Linked DNA regions of Homo sapiens. The protein of the gene in region 5 interacts with the protein of the main gene of each other region in a pairwise test. Each region holds a gene or a part of one and is shown on either strand. Other genes may lie near its edges. The genes, in order: PTPN2, TUBGCP5, ATP7A, ARL3 and TMEM132D.

Region 1 (4,426 bases), on a different chromosome or scaffold from region 5:
TTCACTTAGATGACTGTCTATTTTCTTTGTTCCCTTGTTTGTTTTGTTACTCAATCCAAATCTTTTATAGTGAAGACATGGAGTACTTGCTACTCTCCATGCCATATTCTAACACTTCAAATGTGCTAGCTCTTAATCCTCACAATAACCTTAGGAGATAAGCACTAATACTAATATTACCATTATTACACCCTTTTTACGGAAGATGTGGGGAGAATAATTAGGTAACTCGCCCAAGGATATGCACCTAACAAATAGTAGAGACAGAATTTTAACCTAGGCAAGTCTGGGTTGACTATGCTGTGACCCCTTATAAAGATGTGTGTTCAACAAAGTACCCCACAAAAATGTTAAATTGTCTCCAGAATTTACACTGGTCAATTTTTGAAGTTTCCACTCTTGACTGAGACCTAGTTATGTAACTTGGCCTTATAGCTGGACAACACTCAACAATGTCAACAAATAAGATGACACCAAAAATCAAGTCTCACTGGACCACTTCCCAGAATATGCAACAAATTCAGAATACGTCAACAAGGAAAGCACTCGGCAGAGAGAGAAATAAAAGAGATATTTAATGCTAGTGAATTAAAAAAACCCCACAAACCCAACAATGTCATTTTGCCATGGCTATGTTCAGCAAACTCACTCATGGCTATGTTCGACAGACTCATTCATGGCTATGATCAGCAGACTCACTCGTGCCTATGTTCAGCAAACTCACTCATGCCTATATAGGTTCAGCAAACTCACTCGTCTCTGTCCTCCCTGTGACACACAAGGGAGCCAGCACTCCTGAGTCACCTGCCTCAGGTCATTAATGCTGACTGGTGAAGCCAAGGAATTACATTTCACTAAACTATAACCTCAAAGGAGCTCTCATTTTGAGGCCTGGTACTGTTTCATCTTTCTTTCTAATTCTGTGCTCACGTTGCACCAACCCATGAGTCACTGCCACTAGGAGCCATGCCCCCCACACAATGCCTAGAACCCTAGCTCTACCCATTTCTCTCACTGAAGAAAGCTTTAAGCAATGCAATTAAACTTCAAATCCTCTGTAATTTGTTAAAAGTTTATCATTTACATTTAATACTTTATTAGTAATATCAAATTACCAGCTAGAGATCTTACAACATTAGTTCTGAATTGCCAAACTAGATATTTACTCTGGGGGGTTAACTGTCATCATCAATACTGGGAATATGCTAATAAATATGTGGTAATACCAGCAACCAGCTTAAGTATTTATGCCTGACCTTGTGCTGAAAGGCAATTGCAAATAGCCTATATGTCTATAGGAATGTCAAAGTCATTGGAAGTTTTCTGTAAATGAATACATGCTTTAAGATTATAATTACACATATTTACAGACTTAAGATACAATCACTTTGGGCTGGGTGCGGTGGCTCACGCCTGTAATCTCAGCACTTTGGGACGCCGAGGTGGGCGATCACTTGAGGTCAGGAGTTCGAGACCAGCCTGGTCAACACTGTGAAACCCCATCTCTACTAAAAATGCAAAATTAGCCAGGAGTGGTGGCAGGCACCTGTAATCCCAACTACTCGGAAGGCTGAGTGGGGAGAACCACTTGAACCTGGGAGGCAGAGGCTGCAGTGAACCGAGATTGTGCCATTGCACTCCAGTCTGGGCAACAAGAGCAAAACTGCGTCTCAAAAAAAGAAAAAAAAACCAGTAGCATGTGTGGTATGTATTTATTAATCCAACTTTATCAGTAATCACTTCATATGCCGATGGTCTAAATGCACCAATTAAAAAAGATTCTCAGAATGCCAAGACCATTTCTGCAGAAATTAACCCCTTGGAATGGGCAGCATGCTTTTCTGATCCTGAGTACCTGAAGGATAAAGATGTTTCCAATATCCTATCTGGAATAGGGGCAGAAAATGCCTTAGAATTGAGAGCCTGAGGACAATATCACACCAGATAAATTAACAGAAAAAAAATCCTTCCTAGCCACAAACTGCACTGTCAAAGACTCCACAAAAAAGTGTGTCCAGAAAAACTCATCTCTGTGATAAAAAAAGATCCACCCTCAGATAAAGTATGTATTCTAAAACTAAAGACACAAAACTTAAAAAAAAAAAAAGCAGTGGTAGGAAAGACACAATCCAAAGGACAATACATTTCCCTCCCAGTTACCCGTCTCATCACAGCCAGGAAGCAGGCAGGGAAGGCGGCATGCAGGCTGTGAAGGCATGGGGAAATCTGATTGAACTACTTTTCTTTTTGAACTCCAGATTTAAGTTGGTGAAAGCTCACTGTGATTAGAAAGGGAAATTTTCCTAATCTTAAACATCTGAAATAACTTTTACTTCACCTAAATCACTGATCACTGCCAAAGTGACCCTGGCAAATCCAGTGTTCCCAAAGTCTGGCGTCTGAAGCAGGACATGTTCTAATGGGCTGAGTTTCCCAAACATTGCGTATTTTGGCTCTGAGTGCCCTAATGTTTCTGTGCATTAAGAATATTTTAATGCTATTTAAAGATTTGGAAAAAATCTTTTTAAATAAACCTTTATTCTGACACCAATGGTCCGATCTAATTTACATTCTTATATTGGCTAGTAATCAGAGAAATGAAAGTGCTAGTAAATATGTTCACACATGAGAAACATAATGAAAAGACAGTCGATCTTCTTATATTATGCATCAACTTACAGTATCTGCTTATGTCCAATACTATGTGATTAAACCAGACAAAAAATGGAGTCTGTGGTTGTTTCTATTTTACATTTTAACTTAGTACATAACACAAGTTTCTGATCAGTCTTTGAACTTAGGTTCTACAAATATGCAGTAAAAATAGCTTAATGAGAATAAAGCCACCAACCAGAAGAATATAACATTTTGCTGGAATTTCATTATATCTGCCATAAATATTCAAGTTGCTTGTTGTTATAAAGTCAAATATCACATAAACCAAGTATCAGTGTTTAATGAAGGCAAAAGTATCTCAAGTTTCCAGTTACTTTAATAATTAAAAGATTAACCACCCCCAAAATGAAAAATTCAGTTTCTTTAATGAAATCTTGTTTCTACAAGGGCTTTTAAGTAACACACAGGATTTAACCTGAGGCTGAGTATATATGAGGAAGCTAGCTAAAATTTTACAATTTTAAGACAGCCAGCTGGATTTACCACAAAAATTCAAATACACTCTTTGAAACAAAGACAAGGGCTCAAGTGGAGTGCAGTTATTTGATGCTATGTGTATTTAACAAATAGATATGATTTAAAACCTGTATGAAGTTTACCTGTATACTAGAATCTCCCTTTATACATTTTGCTCCTTCTATTATAGCCATGTATGAGAATCTCAGTTGATCTGGGGTCTGAATAAGACCCATTCGGTATTTTCTCATGTTCAGTAACACTTGTTTTATGTTAATATCATCTCCTTTTTCCATCTGCAAGAAAGGCAAAAAATGAGACAAGTCTTGTTATTGGAACCCAGGAAACAGAATCAATGCAAGATCATTGCTAAGATTTTTGCTATGCATTTTCTCCTCTGAAAGAACAACGATAATTTAACCCTCCAGCTATAACTGTTATGTACACAACAACTATCCCAGCCTACTCATCCCTCCCCACATCTCAACCCCTCAAGTAGTTGGAGGACTTTGATTCTTTAGCTGATTCACAACTGATTCCAAACCAATCATAGTAATCTCATTCCTTCTGGCCAGTCATTGGTTAAAGGAAGGATTTATAACCAGTTCTGGCTAGTATAAGGACTATTTTTTTTTTTAAAAGTCATGGCAGGAGTCAACCTTTCTGCTCATTCCCCTTCCGCCTCCTTCATGTCTGCACTACAGACACGATGTCTGGATATACAGCACCCATCTAACAATGGTGGAAAAGAGGCCAGGCATGATGGCTCATGCCTGTAATCCCAACACTTTGGGAGGCCAAATCACTTGAGGCCAGGAGCTAGAGACCAGCCTGGCCAACATCGCGAAATGCCATCTCTACTAAAAATACAAAAATTAGCTGGGTGTGGCGGCGCATGTCTGTAATCCCAGCTACATTGGAGGCTGAGGCTGGAGAATCGCCTGAACCCAGGAGGCGGCGGTTGCAGTGAGGTCAGATAGTGCCACTATACTCCAGCCTGGGCGACAGAGCGAGACTCCATCTCAAAAATAAATAAATAAATAAATAAATAAATAAATAAATAAATAAATAAATAAAAATGTGGTGGGTCACACCTGTAATCCCAGCACTTTGGGAGGCCAAGGTGGGCAGATTATGAGGTCAAGAGATTGAGACCTTCCTGGACAACATGGTAAAACCCCGTCTCTACTAAAAATACAAAAATTAGCTGGGCATGGTGGTACGCACTTGTAGTCCCAGCTACTCGGGAGGCTGAGGCAGGAGAATCTCTTGAACCCGGGAGGCGGAGGTTGCA
Region 2 (4,426 bases), on a different chromosome or scaffold from region 5:
CAAAGTGTTTCAAAGGAAGTTTCATTAGGATATAAAACTGTGCTGTTTCCAGATAGTATCTAGTTCTGGAACTAGGAGGACCAAAGATACTCCCTTTTCCTTTATACAGTCTTGTTTTTATTGTTTACAAGCATACATTCTCTTTGAAATAAAGAACACATTAAGGATATAAAACTTAAAATCTGAAATTATTTTTAAAAAGGTTTTTTTTCTTTTTGAGATGGAGTCTTGCTCTGTCGCCCATGCTGGAGAGCAGTGGCACGATCTCGGCTCACTGTAACCTCCGCCTCCTGGGTTCAAGTGATTCTCCTGCCTCAGCCTCCTGAGTAGCTGGGATTACAGATGCCCACCACCATGTCTGGCTAATTTTTGTATTTTTTGTAGAGATGGGGTTTCGCCATGTTGGTCAGGCTGGTCTCGAACTCCTGACCTCAGCTGATCTGCCCCCACTGGCCTCCCAAAGTGCTGGGATTGCAGTTGTGAGCCATGGAGCCTGGCTGCCTTTTTTTTTTTTAGACAGAGTTTCGCTCTTGTTGCCCAGGCTGGAGTGCAATGTAGCGATCTCGGCTCACCACACCACAACCTCTGCCTCCTGGGTTCAGCAATTCTCCTGCCTCAGCCTCCCAAGTAGCTGGGATTACAGGCATGCACCACCACGCCTGGCTAATTTTGTATTTTTAGTAGAGATGGAGTTTCTCCATGTTGGTCAGGCTGGTCTCGAACTCCTGACCTCAGGAGATCCGCCCACCTCAGCCTCTCAAAGCACTGGGATTACAGGCGTAAGCCACTGTGCTCGGCTTTCTTTCTTTCTTTTTTTTTTTTTTAAAGAAATATCAAACACTTTGTAAGAGAGAACTTCAGAAGGGGTTTCCATGGCCCACTGCCCAGCCATGGCAGGTGCCACATGCCAAGCTTACACCTCCACAGCCCCACCACAATATTCAGAAGCAAACAGGAGACATCAGAGCACCACAGTCATGAATATTTCATAAGTATAAATGTATACTTTAAAGATAAAGACTCCTTTCAAAACACAGCCACAACACCATTTGCTCAAAAATATCATCTAATAGCATTCAAGCAAATTTCACATTGCTTCTACAATTTTTCACTTTTCGGCTTTAAGTCTCAATCAGGAACAATTAACTTATCCATAAACTGCGATGGTTGATAGACTTCTTAAGTTCCTCACCCCCTGTATTTTTCTCACATTTATTTGTAAAAAAAACCTGAAAGAGTTGAATTTCAGCAAAGCATATGCAGCAGTGTTATTTCTCCTCCACCCCAAAGTGAGACAAAAAAAAAAGAAAAAAAAAAAGCAAAATATATTTTGCACACTTTGAGCCAGCAATATAAAGCGAGGAAGACTTCTATTTCCATCCCTGCAGCTATGGCTTCATCTACTACCTTAGTTTCTTGATTCCGAGTACAGCCAATGGGAGATTTCGAATTATACTAGCACTCAAATGAATTCTTACTTCCTTACTGACATGGAGTAAGTACAGTCAACCAAACATGCACTTTTATTTCATGGAAGTAACAGCAGAATTACTGTTGCACTGACTTTATAAACAGGACAGGTAACAAAATATTGAGCTGTACACTGGAGTTAACAGTAGAGGATGGCAGTGCTAGAGGGAGCTGCTCCCGGGCCACTTCCCCTGATTCAGTGCACTTGCCTATGTGATGTGTGTGAATAACAAACACTCTCAAAACACAGCATCTTTTAGAGCTCATCCAAAATACAACTTTGGAGAATAGTCTAGCATGATGTCCAGAATTTGATTTAAAATAATTCAGCAAGTGTGACTGGGGAGGTGGGCACAGACATGACAGAGCTGTCCTCACTGGCACAGCTGAAGCAGGTGCCATCACGGTGTTCACAACACTGTCTTTGCCACTTCAGTTTGAAGGTGTCCATGATAAAAATTTAACAAAACGTACACAATATAACATGAGTATAATCTAAAAATGTTTGCTTGTTTAAATCAGAAGACCTCAGATTTTTAAAAATGTTTTACTTCTCAAAAAATACTTGCACTTTTTTTTTTTTTTAAAGACTGGGTTTTGCTATGTTGCCCAGGCTAGTCTTGAACTCCTGGGGTCAAGCAATCCTCTCCTCTCAGCCTCCTGAATGGCTGGGAAGACCCTGTCTCTAAAAAAAAGGGAAGCTGAAGCTGAAATGGTCACAGTGCAGATGCTGCAGAAATCACATACTTACCGCCAAGTGCCCAGGCCTGCCTGCCAACCGTCTGCAAACATGAGAGCCAAGTTCAACACCTTCATGATAGCTTCTTTCACAAAGCTGACCTGCAGACCAAAGTCACAGAACACAAACTGTGTAACTAGGTTTGGACACTGATACCAACACTTTTACCTATTTTAAATGAATCACAGAAAAAGTTCATCACCACAGTGACTGCCTTCTGTGTATATGGAAGGGTACTAGGCTCTGAACCATGCCCATTTGGGACCAGGCACATGCATTCACTGAATGTAAGATACAAGTGATATTAGCAGTACAGTCAAACCAACAAAACAAACTATTAAGACCTTTTCCTGGGATGGCCATTTAAATTCACCAATGAAACTAGGACAAATAATTGCAATGGTTTTAACATTACTGAATTCTATCTATTCACATGAAGTGGACATGCTATTGCTCCGCAACTGCAGACACAATTTTCCAAATGAATCCAAGAGTAACGCAGAGTGAGTGTTGACTATCACACATAGTTCTCATGTTGCTCTTAGATACAATTTCTACGAATAGGGCACTCCTCCTTCTGTTTTTTTTTTTTTTTTTTTTTTTTTTTTTAAGAGACAAGGTCTTGCTCTGTTACCCAAGCTGGAGTGGAGTGCAGTGGTGTCAGATCATAGTTCACTGCAGCCTCAAACTCCTGGCCTCAAACAATGCTCCCACCTCAGCCTCCCAAGTAGCTGGGCCTCCAGGTATGCACCACCATGTCTGCTAATCTTTTTAACTTTTTGTAAAGACAGAGTCTTGCTATGTTGCCCAGGGTGGTCTTGAACTCTTGGCCTCATAAGATCTGCCTGCCTCAGTTTCCCAATGTGCTGGGATTACAGGCATGAGCCATTGTGGCCGGCCTGGGGCATTTGTTTGTAACCTCATTTCATCTGGTTCTTCCTTAAAGAATATTCTACAGGACAGAAGCTTAATCATCATAAAATTCCAAAGCACGCAGACAGCGCCACTCGCCCAGCAGTGGCCACATCTGCAGGAGACATCTCATGTACCTTTTCTCTCAGCAGACACCGGTCATGGATGGTTGACAGATACCTATAGTGAATTTTAATCAATTGATCTAAATCCTTGGCTTCCTCGACTTGATGTTGAAACTCCAGCCCTGTACTGTGTAGAATCTTGGAAGAGAAAGATAAAAAGCTTCATCAGCAGCCTTCTTTGAGGACTTGTGTGCTGCACACAAATCTTTTTTACTAAGCTCTTCTACTCCTCTCAAATTCTTCCTTCAATAAGCACATCTAGACAGTTTCATAAAGTACCATTCTTCAAAGGCTGGCTGGATACTCTGGCGTTCTGATCCTAAGAGGACGGCGGGGGCAATCCTGTAGGACGCCCACTTGCACAGTGAATGAATGAACGCCAAACTCTGGACTAACAGACTTCCTGGCAGGAAGGGGCAAGCACATTAAGCTGTATATAAGACACATCGATAAAAAAAAAATCAAGTAAATGTGTTACTTTTATACAAATAATTACAGTGAATTTATGTTTCTTAAGTTCCTTTTCTCATACATTGATCTTTCTCTAAAATGAGTATAAGTATACCTCAAATAAAAAACAAACTAAGAAAAAACTTAAACTCTTATCATTTACTCTTAACAATTAGGGGCTTAATGAAGGCCAACCTTGTGAAGGCAGTAATGCAGTCAGGGGAAACGTGGAGCCCCTCTGCCATAGCCTTCCCATCCAAAACACAGGCTTCAGTGGCTCACTTCACCCAAGCAAGTTGGGTTTCAGAACTCACAGACCAGGTATAAACAGGTCTAAACAACAATTCAAACCCCAAATGCATACTGTCCTCTAATAATACTGCTCTTGTTCCAATTTCTGAACGCTTCTTTTAGAACTTCCCCTAGAACTGGCTTTTAGATGTATCAGAAAAATAATTTCATTTACTTTGTAGTGAGTTCTTGTTTTTAAGAAAAAAGTCTATAACCTGGCTGCATCTTCCTCCCACACACCGTAGTGGATTTTGGCTGTTATTAAACATTGGAGCCATTTTTTAGGGACAGCTGTCACCACTATTGAAACCTAAAGGACTATGCGGCACATTCTGAAGGCAATTCCAGAAGACGAGCTGTGGCTGTGCCTGTCCCCAGGGGCTGCTGGACTGGAGGGACAACAGCCTCTGGATACACATATTCCGGTATATTTACAAAA
Region 3 (4,426 bases), on a different chromosome or scaffold from region 5:
GCTAAATAAAATAATTCAGGCACAAAAGGACAAATGTTGTATGATTCCACTTAAATGATGTCCCTAGAATAGTCAAATTCAGAGACAGAAAGTAGAACAGTTGTTATCAGGAGCTTGGGGAGGGGAAGGAGAAATGGGCAATGACTGCTAATGGATATGTGATTTCTTTTGGGAGTGATAAAAAGTTCTAAAATTATATAGTGATGATGGCTGGAAAACTCTGTAAGTATACTAACAACCACTGGGTTGTGTACCTTAAATGGGCAAATTTTATGGTATGTGAACTATGTGTCAATTTTAAAAAGTGAGAATTCTATAATTTCTACCATTTGTCACCAACAGAAAAATTAAGAACTAAAAATTAATAATGGTATGTCTCTAAGTCCTCTCTCACTGACATTAATCTACCATAACAATTTAGACATGTGTTTAGTAAAATTTTTTACTCAGATTTAGTGAGCCTAAAAAGGGAATACTACTATTTGATATCTTTCATTCTAATCAGGATAGCAAAGATTAATTATATTGTCCAGAAATTGGTTGTAAAACGTTTCAATTGTTATTTCAAGCAAAAAATTTCATTTGGGCATTTTCCAGTTTAATTCAAGGCCAGGTTCAATTCTGGTTCAAAAGAACAATTTCACATAATTAAATTCCATTGAATATACATTTTTTGTTTCAGTTCAAAGGTAAGAGCTGTCAGGAAATACGAAAACTTTGGGACAGCTCTGGAGTCAGTTTAATTTGAATGCCTAAATATAAAATTATAGTTAAAATCCTATTATTTATTTCAACTACTTTTGTTTTTAAAAGAGCACTGGCTTCCCCCATTATATAAATACATAGCTACATACATACATTCTTATTGTAAAAACAACTTATAAAACCAGGAAACACAATGGAAACAAAAATCACATTTATCCTACCACCCAAAGATAATCACTGTTAAAATTTTGGTTCATATCCTACCAGGAATCTTATTCATATACATAAACAATATATACATGGCGTAAATTCAGATACATTTCTTTATAAAATTTTGATCACATTGTATATATAGCTTTTCAGCTTTTTTTCATTTAACAAAATACCTCAGACACCTTCCTGTGGCATTAATTATCTTTAATACCATAATGTTTTATGACTTCATAGCATTTCATCATGAGTTATTTATTGTTGCACCACGAGTTATTGTTTCCAGTTTTTAAATATCATAAGCAATTATACAAACATCCTTATGCATCTTTGTATATACTGCTGGCTACCTCCATAGGACATATTTGCAAAAGTGGAATTACAGTGCCTATGAATCATTTCTCATTGATAAATGCCAAAAGAAGCAGCAAAATGGAAGTAAAAGAACATTAGGGTAATCAAAGAAAAAATGATAATTACCTGACAAGGTAGCATCAAATCCCATGTCTTCTATTGCTCCTCTCAACGTTTCTGGAGAGGTTAGTAGAGGATCATACTCAACAGTCCCATTGCTATTTGCAAGGGAGACTCGTATGGATTTTACACCTGGCTTTTTTGATATGACACCCTCAATAGACTGCACACAGGAATTACAAGTCATGCCATCAATGTTTATCACAGTTTCTTGTGTCAGAGGCTGGCTAACTACATTCAAAGGAATCTTCTGAAGAGATGAGCTGGAGGGAGAGTTTGAGGTACTCTCAACTTCACTTGTGATACTAACTCTATATAGCCCCGGTGATACAGCCTCTATTGCTTTTCTCAGGGATTCTGGAGTGACTGAGCTTGCATTATACTTCACAATGGCAGACCTATTCTCTAAAGAAACTACTATGCTGCTTACATATTGGAGTGCAGATAAAGTACTTTCAATATTTGACACACATGATTTACAATGCATGCCATCAATGATGAAAGTGGCTGTTGAATCATTGGTATATGATGGACTCCTTTGCTGTGACCCTTCTGAGGATTTAACTGGTGTGTTCTTTAGACGTTCTACATCAATAGCTCCCAATTTGAGGTACTTGGGCTGCTTTTTGACAAATGCTGGAAAGCCCATAGCTTCAATCTGCTTTTTCATTTCCTCTACTGAGATAAGATGAGGTTGATAAACAATAGTAGCTTCTTGATTGTCCAGGGAGACTAGTTAATAAAAAGAAATATAATTAATTCAGTTATTCCTGGGCTACTTCAGAAAACATTCTGTTTTCTAAATCAATAACCACAAATAATTGTTTCTCTCTCATTCTTGTCATCATATTTTCTTAATTTTTTTTCTTTTCAGAAAATGTTATTGGCATAGACTAGAAACAAGTAAGAGATATGACCACTGTAGCTATGGTCTCCAAGTTTCTCCATGCCTAAGTAAAATATATTAGAGGTAAAGAGTACCCTAGTCATGTTGTGTTAAGAACCTTGAATTCCATGAATTGCCAACCCAGCTGCCTTTTCTTCAGTTCAAGGTTTATGTAACCTTTAATTATAATCATTAACTTTTAATCCTGGGAATATGCTGTACCTCAATGATACAGCAAGCACTCTAGTCTCATGGATTCAAAACTCATGCTTAAGAAGAAAGCAAAAAGTTAAAAGATCAAAACAGACACCTAAGCCTTACAAAACAATCAACACCAGACACATTACCTTTAATTCGCTGAACACCTTGCAGTTTCCCAATTTTTCCTTCAATAGTGCTAGTACATGAATGGCAGGTCATCCCTTCCACTTTCATCTTCAGCACGACTTCACCAGCTTGAGCCATACTATGATCTTCACAAGCTCCTGACTTTTTCTCCAGTGTCCCAGTATCTAAACTGAGTTCTGGAACCAGCTCTTTTATCTGATTGGCATTCACTATAGAAGGGATTATTGTCACTGCTACAGTTCTTTTCTGAGGGTAAATTTTAATGTCTGTCACACCCTTGGTCTTCAGCAATGTGCTTTGGATATGGTCCCATGGCAAAGTCAGTGACGCCGTAACAGTCAGAAACAAGGTGTCAGTTAAAACAGGGAGAGGGTCAGGATTATGGATAACAGCATCAAAGCCCATGTCATCAATAGCTTCCTGTAGGGTCTTTGGAGTCTGTAGTTTAGGGTCATAAATAATAGTTGCATTTTTTTCTTCCAGTGATACCTTTTGGAAGGAAATTCCAAAAGTCAGTTTAATTAAATTCTATCACACAGGATTTAAAATAATAATCATCACACCACATTCAAGAAGAGTGAGACAACTCAATCTAATGGAGTTTCCCTATTAGTTTTCATTTTTACTCTTCTTGTTAGAAAGAAACATAAAATGTCTTGTGTACCTACAAGAATGGTAAAGTTATATATGCAGACATATGTGACTGTGGTACCTATCAGGCATTTGAAACATGTATATTGACAAACACACCCAAGAATTTCACAACAGAGTACAAACTACTCTTTCCTTCCATTCCTTTCATAAATTACTCCAACACTTCACACTCTACCAACTGAAAAGGTTATACATGAAACAGGATCAGCTACAGAAAAATAAAAGGTAATATGAAGTTTAATATTTTAAAATGTCCAATTTCCTAAAAATATGTATAACTATTATATGTCAATTTAAAAAAATAAAAATAATGTTCAATTAGGATAACTTTGTTGGCAAGAAAAGTATAAGCCTGCCGGTTTATGAGTGAAGGCAGTATTCATAGGATTTTATAGCATATACTCCTATATCCCCCTAAGTCACTAGAGCATACTATTAATTTTGTTCAAAATAAGAACATCTTTATTGTTTTGCCCAATTAGATTATAAAACAATGATTATATTCTTGTAGCTTAGTTACTGCATATAATTTAACTACTGTCATGATTGCATCTCTTTGGCTGACATCTTACAAAGATTCATGATGAAGACACACACACACACACACACACACACACACACACACACACACAAATACTGGGTTGGGAGTCAGAAGATTTAAGTTCCAGCATCAATTCTCCACTTATTAGCTAACCACACCCATTAGTTCTACCATCTGAAAAATGAGAAAATATGCCCTATTATCTTCCAGGGCTATTACAAGGATCATACGAGTAAATAGGAAAGTTCTTCGTAACAGCAGTGAATTATATAAAATTAAACATTGAGCAACTAATATTTATTGAGCACTTATTATGTGCGTCAGGAACTGGGATTCTCAGGATACAAAGCTGAACATGTCACAGGAACAATAGGACAGAGAATACAGAAAAGGGATACCCATTCATCCCTGGGAATATGGGTCAGAAAAGTATTCTTAGGAGAGATAATACCTGAATGTTAAAGGACAAACAGGAATCAGCAAGGATATATGAGGCAGAGAATTCCAGATGAATGGAAACAAAAAAGTAGAGAAAGATAAGAGGCTTGAAAATTAGGCAACTGCTCTATTATGGGGTTCTATATGCCAATAATGGTTGTGATTTATCC
Region 4 (4,426 bases), on a different chromosome or scaffold from region 5:
CATGTTGATTTTTAGTTAAGAACATAAGAACATCTTTATAGGAAAGTTATTTGTTCTGTGCTATAGCTGATAATCTTGTTCTAACGACACATGGCTAGAACAAGAGTCAAAGAATCCCAGAGTTTAAAGGGCATATAATTTAATCTCCCAGCCCAAGAAGAAATTCCTTCAAACTGAGTCTTAGAATTATGCAAAATGGTTGTATTTGTTATTCACATTGTACCAGGCAATAATTCAAACCAGTTTGTTCACTAAGATCAAAGGATACTTCTGAGAAATAATTCTCAACAACTGCATCTTTGGACAATCATACGCAAATATGCATAATTATTAAGAATTCCTTTCTGCCTCAGAGACTCTTTGTTTACCACTTCTAGTACTGTATCTGTACTGACTTGCTAAGGACCACATTAACCTTTCTATGCCTCAATTTTTTCCAGCAGTAAGATGGAAGGTTTAGTCTAAGCTAGACAAATTCTATGCCAAAAGATTTGGGGGACAGAGATTGAATAGATTGGAAACAAACAGAAGTCTGGCTTTTTAAAAGGCCAGACTTTTTTTTCCTTTTTCTTTTTTTTGGGGGGACAGGGTCTTCCTCTGTGGCCTAGGCTGGAATGTAGTGGCGTGAACACGGCTAACTGCAGCTTCGACTCCCTGGGCTCAAGCGATCCTCCCACCTCAGCCTCTCCAGTAGCTGGGACTACCGGCTCACACCACCACGCCCCACTAAGTTTTGTATTTTTTGTAGAGATGGGGTTTTGCCATGTTGCCCAGGCTGGTCTTGAACTCCTAAGCTCAAGCGATCCACCCAAAGGCAAGATTTTTTTTTTTGCTGTTTTTATCTCATCTGGTCTTGAATACTTTGACAGCATTCCTTCTTAAAACTATATTTACAAGAAGTCTCCCTGGTTTCTATTAGCTATATTGCAATCACTCATTTATAATATCACCTTTCAGAAAAGTAAAAATTAAAATTCTGAGATCCTTAGGGGACTGGTGACATAAAAAGGCTAAGAGGAAAACCCATTTTACTACTCATCCTGAGTTCCTGATTGTAAGTGAAAAGAAGAGGTCTCATTACCTCTTAAAATAAATTATAAAACATCTGGAATTTATCAAATTAGTACATTAAATGACACAGGCAAAGTTCTTCTCATGCATTTTCTGCTTAGTGCAGAAATTATGAAGGAAGATCTGTTTCCTATTTTAAAAAAAATTTTTTTTGGCCGGGTGTGGTGGCTCACACCTGTAATTCCAGCACTTTGGGAGGCCGAGGTGGGTGGATCACTTGAGGTCAGGAGTTCGAGACCAGCCTGGCCAACATGGCGAAATCCCGTATCTACTAAAAATACAAAATTAGCCGGGTATGGTGGCACATGCCTGTAATCCCAGCTACTTGGGAAGCTGAGGCAGGAGAATTGCTTAAACCCAGGAGGTAGAGGTTGCAGTGAGCCAAGATCATGCCTCTGCACTCCAGCCTGGACAACAAAAGTGAAACTCCATCTCAAAACAAAAACAAAAAATAAAACCATATATTATATATATATATATATATATATTTTTTTTTTTTTTGAGACAAGGTCTCACTCCTAATGCCAGGCTGGAGTACAGTGGTGAAATCATGGTTCACTACAGCTTCAGCCTCCCAGGCTCAGGTGATCCTTCCACCTCAGCCTCCGGAGTAGCTGGGACTATAGATGTGTACAACCGCACCCAGCTAATTTTGTGTATTTTTAGTAGAGACAGGGTTTCACTATGTTGCCCAAGCTAGTCTCAAACTCCTGGCCTTAGGCAATCTGCCCGTGACGGCCTCCCAAAGTGCTGGGATTACAAGAGTGAGCCACTGCACCCGGCCTATAAAATATTTTCAAAGTTTAAAATTAATGTTTTGGGTTTTTCCTCATGTGTCTCTTTTAAAGAAGTTACTAAAAATACTGTTTTTTTTTTCAGGCAGAGACTTGCTCCACACTCATTACATTTGATATTAAAGAATTAAGAGAAAAACAAGGCCAGGCACAGTGGTTCACACCTGTAATACCAGTGCTTTGGGAGGCTGAGGCAGGAGGATAGCTCAAGGCCAGGAATTCAAGATCAGCCTGGGCAACAAACACGAGACACATATCCCTACCAAAAAAAAAAAAAAAAAATTATCCAGGTGTGGTGGTGTGCACCTGCGGTTCCAGCTACTCAGGAGGCTGAGACAGAAGGATGGCTTGAGCCCAAGAGTTTGAGGCTGCAGTGAACTATGGTCGGGCCACTGCATTATGGGCTAGGTGACAGAGCAAGACTCTGTCTCAAAAAAAAAAAAAAAAAAAAAGAGACAAACATAATGTTTATTCACCTTAAAAGGAGAGGAGCAAAGCACAGATAAGAAAGAAAAAGAAATCATTCTAACTATAAGGCTGAGTGCAGTGGCTCATGCCTGTAATCCCAGCACTTCGGGAGGCTGAGGCTGGCGGATCATTTGAGGCCAGGAGTTTGAGACCAACCTGGCCAACATGGTGAAACCCTGCCTCTACTAAAAATACAAAAAATTGGCCAGGCATGGTGGTGGGCACCTATATTCCCAGCTACTTGGGAGGCTGAGGCAGGAGAATCGCTTGAACCTGCGAGGTGGAGGTTGCAGTGAGCCGAGATCACACCAGTGTACTCCAGCCTGGGCCACAGAGCTAGACTGTTTCAAAAAAAAAAAAAATTCTAACTATAGATAAACTTTATTAACCTAATGGTGTAGAATACAGTGCTTCTACATTTCTAATGAGTAATTTTCCTTATTAGGAAATAATAACTTCAGATACTTCACCTTTGAGTGAAATTACAGAGAAATGCAAAGTTCAGCTAATGTTTTCTTCCAGCAAAATGATAAATGGCATTTCAAGCATGGTCTAGGGAAGACAAGTGCAAATATAATACAGCATCATATTAATCCAACTACTGAGGATGGGATCACAGGATTATCAGGGTTTGCTAAATAGGGAAGAGGATATTTATAGAGATCAGGGTTCTGCCTGAAAGGTACAAAGTAAGCTGATTTAAGAGGCTGGATGAAAGAGACCAGAATAAGTCTATTCTGTGCATCTATACATATATGCCCATATTTTATTTTAACTGTCAAATGAAGGGAGACAGCGATTAGAAGTTAAATTTATCATAGGGCTGAGTTTTGCAGTATAAATACAATGACATTAATTTTTAAAGTGCATTTTTTGGCCAAAATATCCATTCACGCAATTATCATTAAACACCCTTAATGTGCCCCAAGTACAACAGTGAGCAAAACGGGCATGATCTCTATGTAGGATTTATATTCCTGTGACATTAAATAAAACAATTTAAGAAACATGAACTTCAGTTAAAAGTATATTGTGTGTTACCAGCATGTGTGTATACAAGTTATCTACACCCTGGTGGGCAGAAGTGGTCTGACTCAACCACAAAACATTTAAACAAACTTTTCTACAGTCAAATCATGAATAGATGTGCTATGGACTACAGACGTTTTATCTGCCTCGAAATCAGCTTAAACTACTGGCAGAGGCATGGTGCCCTGACCTAAAACAATACAAACTAGGTCATTCAAAGAAACCAGAGTGGTGGAGGGAGAAGGAATGCGTTGGTATATGGAAAATATATGTGGTTGTGAGGACCAGCTAAAATTTGAATTCTGAAATTACGAAGCCAACAGTCAAGTACATACGGTCCCCATAACTAGCTTAAATATAACTGACTTCCATTTGTTTTTACGTCTTTCAACTGAACTCCTATCAGCTTAAAGCTCAAAATTGAGAACTTAATCCAAACTGTGTCTTCTTTCTCATCACCCTCTCCTAAATAAATACAAACAATGTTTCCTAAGGAACAAAGTCTGAGCATCTCCTCAGGAAGAGTGGGTTCCCACTTCACCAGAGTCCTAATGAAATGAATGTTATGGGCTTTAGAATTTCACAGACTTGTATTCAGCTTCTGTGTGTGTGTGTGTGTGTGTGTATATATATATATATATGTATGTATATGTATCTGTATATATATATGTATATATATGTATGTGTGTGTGTGTTTTTATATATATATATGTATATACATAACACTGCACACAGTTTCAGCTAGAAAATAGGAACAGGCCGGGCGCGGTGGCTCACGCCTGTAATCCCGGCACTTTGGGAGGCCGAGGCGGGCGGATCACGAGGTCAGGAGATACAGACCATCCTGGCTAACATGGTGAAACCCCGTCTCTACTAAAAACACACACACACAAAATTAGCCGGGCGTGGTGGCGGGCGCCCATAGTCCCATCTGCTGCGGAGGCTAAGGCAGGAGAATGGCGTGAACCCGGGAGGCGGAGCTTGCAGTGAACGGAGATCGCGCCACTGCACTCCAGTCTGGGTGACAGAGCAAGACTCCGTCTCAAAAAAAGAAAAAAAAAAGA
Region 5 (4,426 bases):
ACATTGGTTTTTATGTGCAAGAGCGAAAGCTATCAATATGTAACCAGTACACCCAACCCGTCATTCACTGGTGATAGGAAGGCTTTTGAAAAAAACAAATCATTTAAGTAAAATAAATAATTTTAAACAAAATACACACTGTGCTGTAGAAGAATCATAAAGCTAATAGTCGAATGAAAACGTCAGTTCCTCCTGTCCAGGATGGAGCATGGTGGGAAACGGAGCTGATGTGTGGGGTGTGGGGAGAGGGCCAAGCCCTACCTGCCCACTCCTTGACACCACCTTGCTTTATGCAAAAAATGCATTACATTTTCTCAAGCAATACATATGATTCAGAAGGTGGTGTGAGTGGGAAAGGCCTGTTCTCATTCATTCTGGCTCACATGTTGCCCTGCCGCTGCCTGCACACTGGCACTTCCTCCTGTGACTGGAGGCATTGCCTGGACCACAGAAAGCCTTTCCTTGTCATGTCGCTTCTGCCCTCCAGATCCTGTCTCCTCTGTCAGACACCATCCTCGCTGAAAAGACCATCACTGTGCTGGACGAGAAGGTGACCATCACAGACCTCGGGGTGCAGCTGGTGACAGGGCTGTCACTCTCCTTGCAGCTCAGCCCAGGAAGCAACAGGGCCATCTTTGCCACTGCAGTGGCTCAGGAACTTCTGCAGAGGCCAAAACAGGTATGGAGGAGGGCTTGAGACACACTTCAGCAGGGTCCCTCACCAAGTGGATCACACACCAGGCAGGCACCACGCCAGGCGGGTCGCACAATAGAGTGGGATCATATATCGGGCGTTTGTTTCTCCATCTGCAAAGGGCTCTTCTGAAGCAGGTGACTCCTCTGCCTCATGTTTCCCAGCTCCCCCATGCAGAGATGAAAAAAATAAATACATATATACATAAGGATTGCAACATGTGAAAAATGAGAAGCCATTAAGGGGCAGGAGCCCTGGAGGAAAGGCCCACCCCTCATCCACCATAGTGCAAGTGCATGCAGGTGGTCACCTGTGCTCTCCACACGCTTCCTGCTTCCATGAGGGCATGAGGGCACGTGCAGGCTCAGAGCAGGTGCACAGCCTGATGCCAAGGTCCTGCTGGAGCGGAGGGTGACAGACCTGCTGAGTGGGGAGCCTGTGGCGGGAGATCGCTTCCAGACCATTCATTGTTCAGCTCAAGGCAGAAACAGAGAATTCATGGAGATGTCAGTCACAATTTTCTTTTACTTTATTTGGAACCAGTGTGAGCTAATAGAGTGTGTTTTGTGTGTTGTGTGCATATGTATATGTGTGTTGTGTGTCTATGTGTTGTGTACATATATGTTGTTTTTGTGTGTCTGTGTATGCATGTGTGTGTCTTGTGTCAGTATTTTGTGTTGCTTGTTTTGTGTTGTGTGTTGCATGTGTGCTTGTGTTGTATAGGCACCTGTATGCATGTATATATGTGTGTTGTGAATGTATCGTGTGTTGTATGTATGCATTGCATGTGTCTATTTGTTGTTTGTATGTGTGCATATGTGTGTGTGTTGTGGGTCTGTGTCATATATGTTTTTGCTTTATGTGTGTCCGTATGCATGTGTGTCTTGTGTATTTTCTGTTGTGTGTATGCTTGTGTTGTATAGGTGCCTGTGTGCATGTATATGTGTATGTGTGTTGTGTGTATGTGTGTGATGCATGTGTTTGTATGTGGATACAATGGCTTACAAAGGGGACTGTTATAGGGGACCTTTGAATGTAGTAAGTTCTCCCTCATTAGAGGTGGATAAACATTATTTCTTAGAACATAGGAATTTGGGTGAAGCTTGCTTAATAACAAAACATGGTGGTTGCAGGTCATTAGTTCTTTTGCCCCATGAAAAGGGATCATCCTCATGTGGGGCAGCTGGAATCCCTCCGGCCCATATGGGACATTGTTCTGACTGCTTCCCTTCTGGATCAGGAGCCTTTTCTGCGCACTCTTCCTCGGCAGGGTGAGGTACCAGGCCTTCCCTGCCTTCATGCACCAGCTGCGGCTGTGGCCATGTTCAGAGGAGGCAGGAGTGCCACACTGGACTTGCTAAGGGGCACAAAGAGCCTTCCCATTTTCCCAGCCTGCACCTGTCACATAATGCTCCCCTCTCAGGCATGAGCTAATCTCCTAGTCCTTATACTACAGTCTTTGTTTGCAGAGTTTTGGGTTAGAAAACACTTGAAAGTGGTTGATCCCAATAACAGAATCGAATTCTTGGCCAAAGCAAACCTCCTTTTCTCAAGGAAGGATGCCAGCCGAGAGGCAAGTTACAGATAGCAATGAAGAAATAACCTGAGGCTTTTCTCTGTCTTTGTGGGTGATAACATCAGCGGACCACCAGCTAGGCGTTAAGGAAGGGATAAGATGCAGCTAGAAGAAGGCCAGAAGGCTAATCCGTTCCTGACATGCAGAGCTAAACACGCTACCCTGAGATTTGCTCCATGGTTGGTTTGCAGGGCTCTTACTCCCTGCCTGCAACTTGGCTCTGACAGTGGTAGTTTCAAGAACTCCGTTGTGCGTTTGAATGCTCTGCTCAGATTTCATGGCCGATTGAGAGAACCTGGTAAGTCAGTGTCATGTCCAGTAGCTTTTGCACTGTGCCTTGGCAAGGTTATCCGCTTAGCAGGTAGTCCAAGCCAGTGTCTAACAGAATAAGTATTTCTTGGCTGAGCTGAAGGAAAGAGCAGAGGCCACCAGCCACATTTGAGGAGACTTTCTTCTTACTTCCAAAGACTAAACAACAACTGTGTAAAATTACTTCTGTCATGGTCAGGGGCCAGTAGGTCATAAGAGAAAAAAAAATCCACTCAAGCAAAAGCTTAAATAACAAAGGATGTGTTATGAGGATTATAGGGATCTCACAGAACCCAGCTGCAAGACCTTGGAGGAAAGGGAAGGTCAGCACTTTCATGCCCACTCTCTCTCTCACCTGTGTTTTTATTTTGGTCTAATTCATTATTGTCTTCCTATGGATAAATGCCATGCCCAAACATTTGCTTATACATAGTCCATCAGAGGGCTTCATTCCCCAATTTTATATGTGCCCCCACTACACATCTTCCCAAGCATAACTTTGTCAGTCTTGTCTTTCTGGTTTCAAGTTCGAGAGAGAGAGAGTAATGCTGGCTGGCTCAGCATTGCTGAGATTGATGGCTCTAATGGCAGCAGCTGTCTCATTTCAATCAGCTGTTGCTGTGGCCCAGCGGGCAGGGTCATGGGCCACCTAGTGCTGTTCATCATCTCGGGCTTGGGGCGGAGCAGGTTCTCTGAGAGGGAGGGAGGGAGGGAGGAAGCAATGGATCTGCCACTGCTGTCAAGCATAATGTCATCTTCACTAAAATTAAAGGCTGGCATGAAATTGGAGGTTATCTCCAATGATCTGCCTGGTCAAACTATTTGCAAAGAAAGTTGGTCTAAATCAACAAAGTGAAAACAAGCTCTGGCTGCTTTTTGGTCTTCCAGTTTCCTCCAGTTGGGTTGGGTGGAGGAAGAGATGAAGACTCTCCAATCAAGATGCTTCTCCCTCTCCTGCTGTCAGGCTTAACTCCTCCCTCCAAGCCAAGACTATGGCCTGAGGCCAGGACAGATCCACTCCTGCAGACCCAGAAAAGGCAGGGCTGGCAAAACCACAGCCTGCAGCCCTGCAGTGGGACCTCATCTAGATCAGAGGCTTTTATCTGTATTGCCAGTAATCAGTGGAGACTCAGTATTACAACTTAAAAATAATGTAATAAATATTTTTCATTTGAATGTGTAACACTTGTAAATGATTCCACTAACCAGTAATTTCCTTTGTCGTGCAATTTATTATTGTTCAGAAGTTGATTCTGAACAGCCCAAGGGCCCATCTTCCTTTTATAACAACACCTACAGGAGAAAAAAAAAAAAAGCAAATCTTCTTACGGATTGTTTAATACTGGCCCTGTTTTGTCATTTTGTTGTTGTTTTATTTTGCTTTTTTGCATCTTTGTGAGAATTCATTTTCTTTTATACTCTTGGTACTTCTTATCGCTTATTTCTACACTGTTTGAAAGGTTTGTCTTTGTTCTTGTAGCAATAGTTTTGCCGTTGTGTGTCTACTGTACTAAGACTTGGGGCTCAATGAGCTTTTTGGCCCATTTGATTAACTTACATATTTTTCTCCATAGGAAGCAGCCATCAGTTGCTGGGTCCAGTTCAGTGATGGCTCAGTCACGCCCTTGGATATTTACGATGGGAAAGACTTCTCCTTGATGGCCACATCTTTGGATGAGAAGGTAGTCTCCATCCACCAAGACCCCAAATTCAAGTGGCCTATCATTGCTGCGGAAACAGAAGGACAAGGCACCCTGGTCAAGGTGGAAATGGTTATTAGTGAATCCTGCCAGAAATCCAAGCGGAAGAGTGTGTTAGCTGTTGGAACGGCAAACATCAAAGTTAAA

What was found.
Region 1: the proteins of TMEM132D (region 5) and PTPN2 interact in a two-hybrid assay, tested with the Homo sapiens proteins (one large-scale study listed by BioGRID).
Region 2: the proteins of TMEM132D (region 5) and TUBGCP5 interact in a two-hybrid assay, tested with the Homo sapiens proteins (one large-scale study listed by BioGRID).
Region 3: the proteins of TMEM132D (region 5) and ATP7A interact in a two-hybrid assay, tested with the Homo sapiens proteins (one large-scale study listed by BioGRID).
Region 4: the proteins of TMEM132D (region 5) and ARL3 interact in a two-hybrid assay, tested with the Homo sapiens proteins (one large-scale study listed by BioGRID).

What each region holds. Positions count from the first base shown.
Region 1 is NC_000018.10:12,810,928-12,815,353, forward strand, and holds part of PTPN2 (tyrosine-protein phosphatase non-receptor type 2), read right to left. Parts: intron 3,429-4,426; coding exon 3,276-3,428; intron 1-3,275. UniProt on the Homo sapiens protein: Non-receptor type tyrosine-specific phosphatase that dephosphorylates receptor protein tyrosine kinases including INSR, EGFR, CSF1R, PDGFR.
Region 2 is NC_000015.10:23,000,844-23,005,269, forward strand, and holds part of TUBGCP5 (gamma-tubulin complex component 5), read right to left. Parts: intron 3,385-4,426; coding exon 3,259-3,384; intron 2,311-3,258; coding exon 2,222-2,310; intron 1-2,221. UniProt on the Homo sapiens protein: Component of the gamma-tubulin ring complex (gTuRC) which mediates microtubule nucleation.
Region 3 is NC_000023.11:77,986,928-77,991,353, reverse strand, and holds part of ATP7A (copper-transporting ATPase 1), read right to left. Parts: intron 3,113-4,426; coding exon 2,623-3,112; intron 2,122-2,622; coding exon 1,396-2,121; intron 1-1,395. UniProt on the Homo sapiens protein: ATP-driven copper (Cu(+)) ion pump that plays an important role in intracellular copper ion homeostasis.
Region 4 is NC_000010.11:102,707,351-102,711,776, forward strand, and holds part of ARL3 (ADP-ribosylation factor-like protein 3), read right to left. Parts: intron 1-4,426. UniProt on the Homo sapiens protein: Small GTP-binding protein which cycles between an inactive GDP-bound and an active GTP-bound form, and the rate of cycling is regulated by guanine nucleotide exchange factors (GEF) and GTPase-activating proteins (GAP).
Region 5 is NC_000012.12:129,074,787-129,079,212, reverse strand, and holds part of TMEM132D (transmembrane protein 132D precursor), read left to right. Parts: intron 1-487; coding exon 488-679; intron 680-4,137; exon of another isoform or gene 4,138-4,153; coding exon 4,154-4,426. UniProt on the Homo sapiens protein: Regulate neuronals morphology via inhibition of the WAVE regulatory complex (WCR), a complex that controls F-actin cytoskeletal dynamics.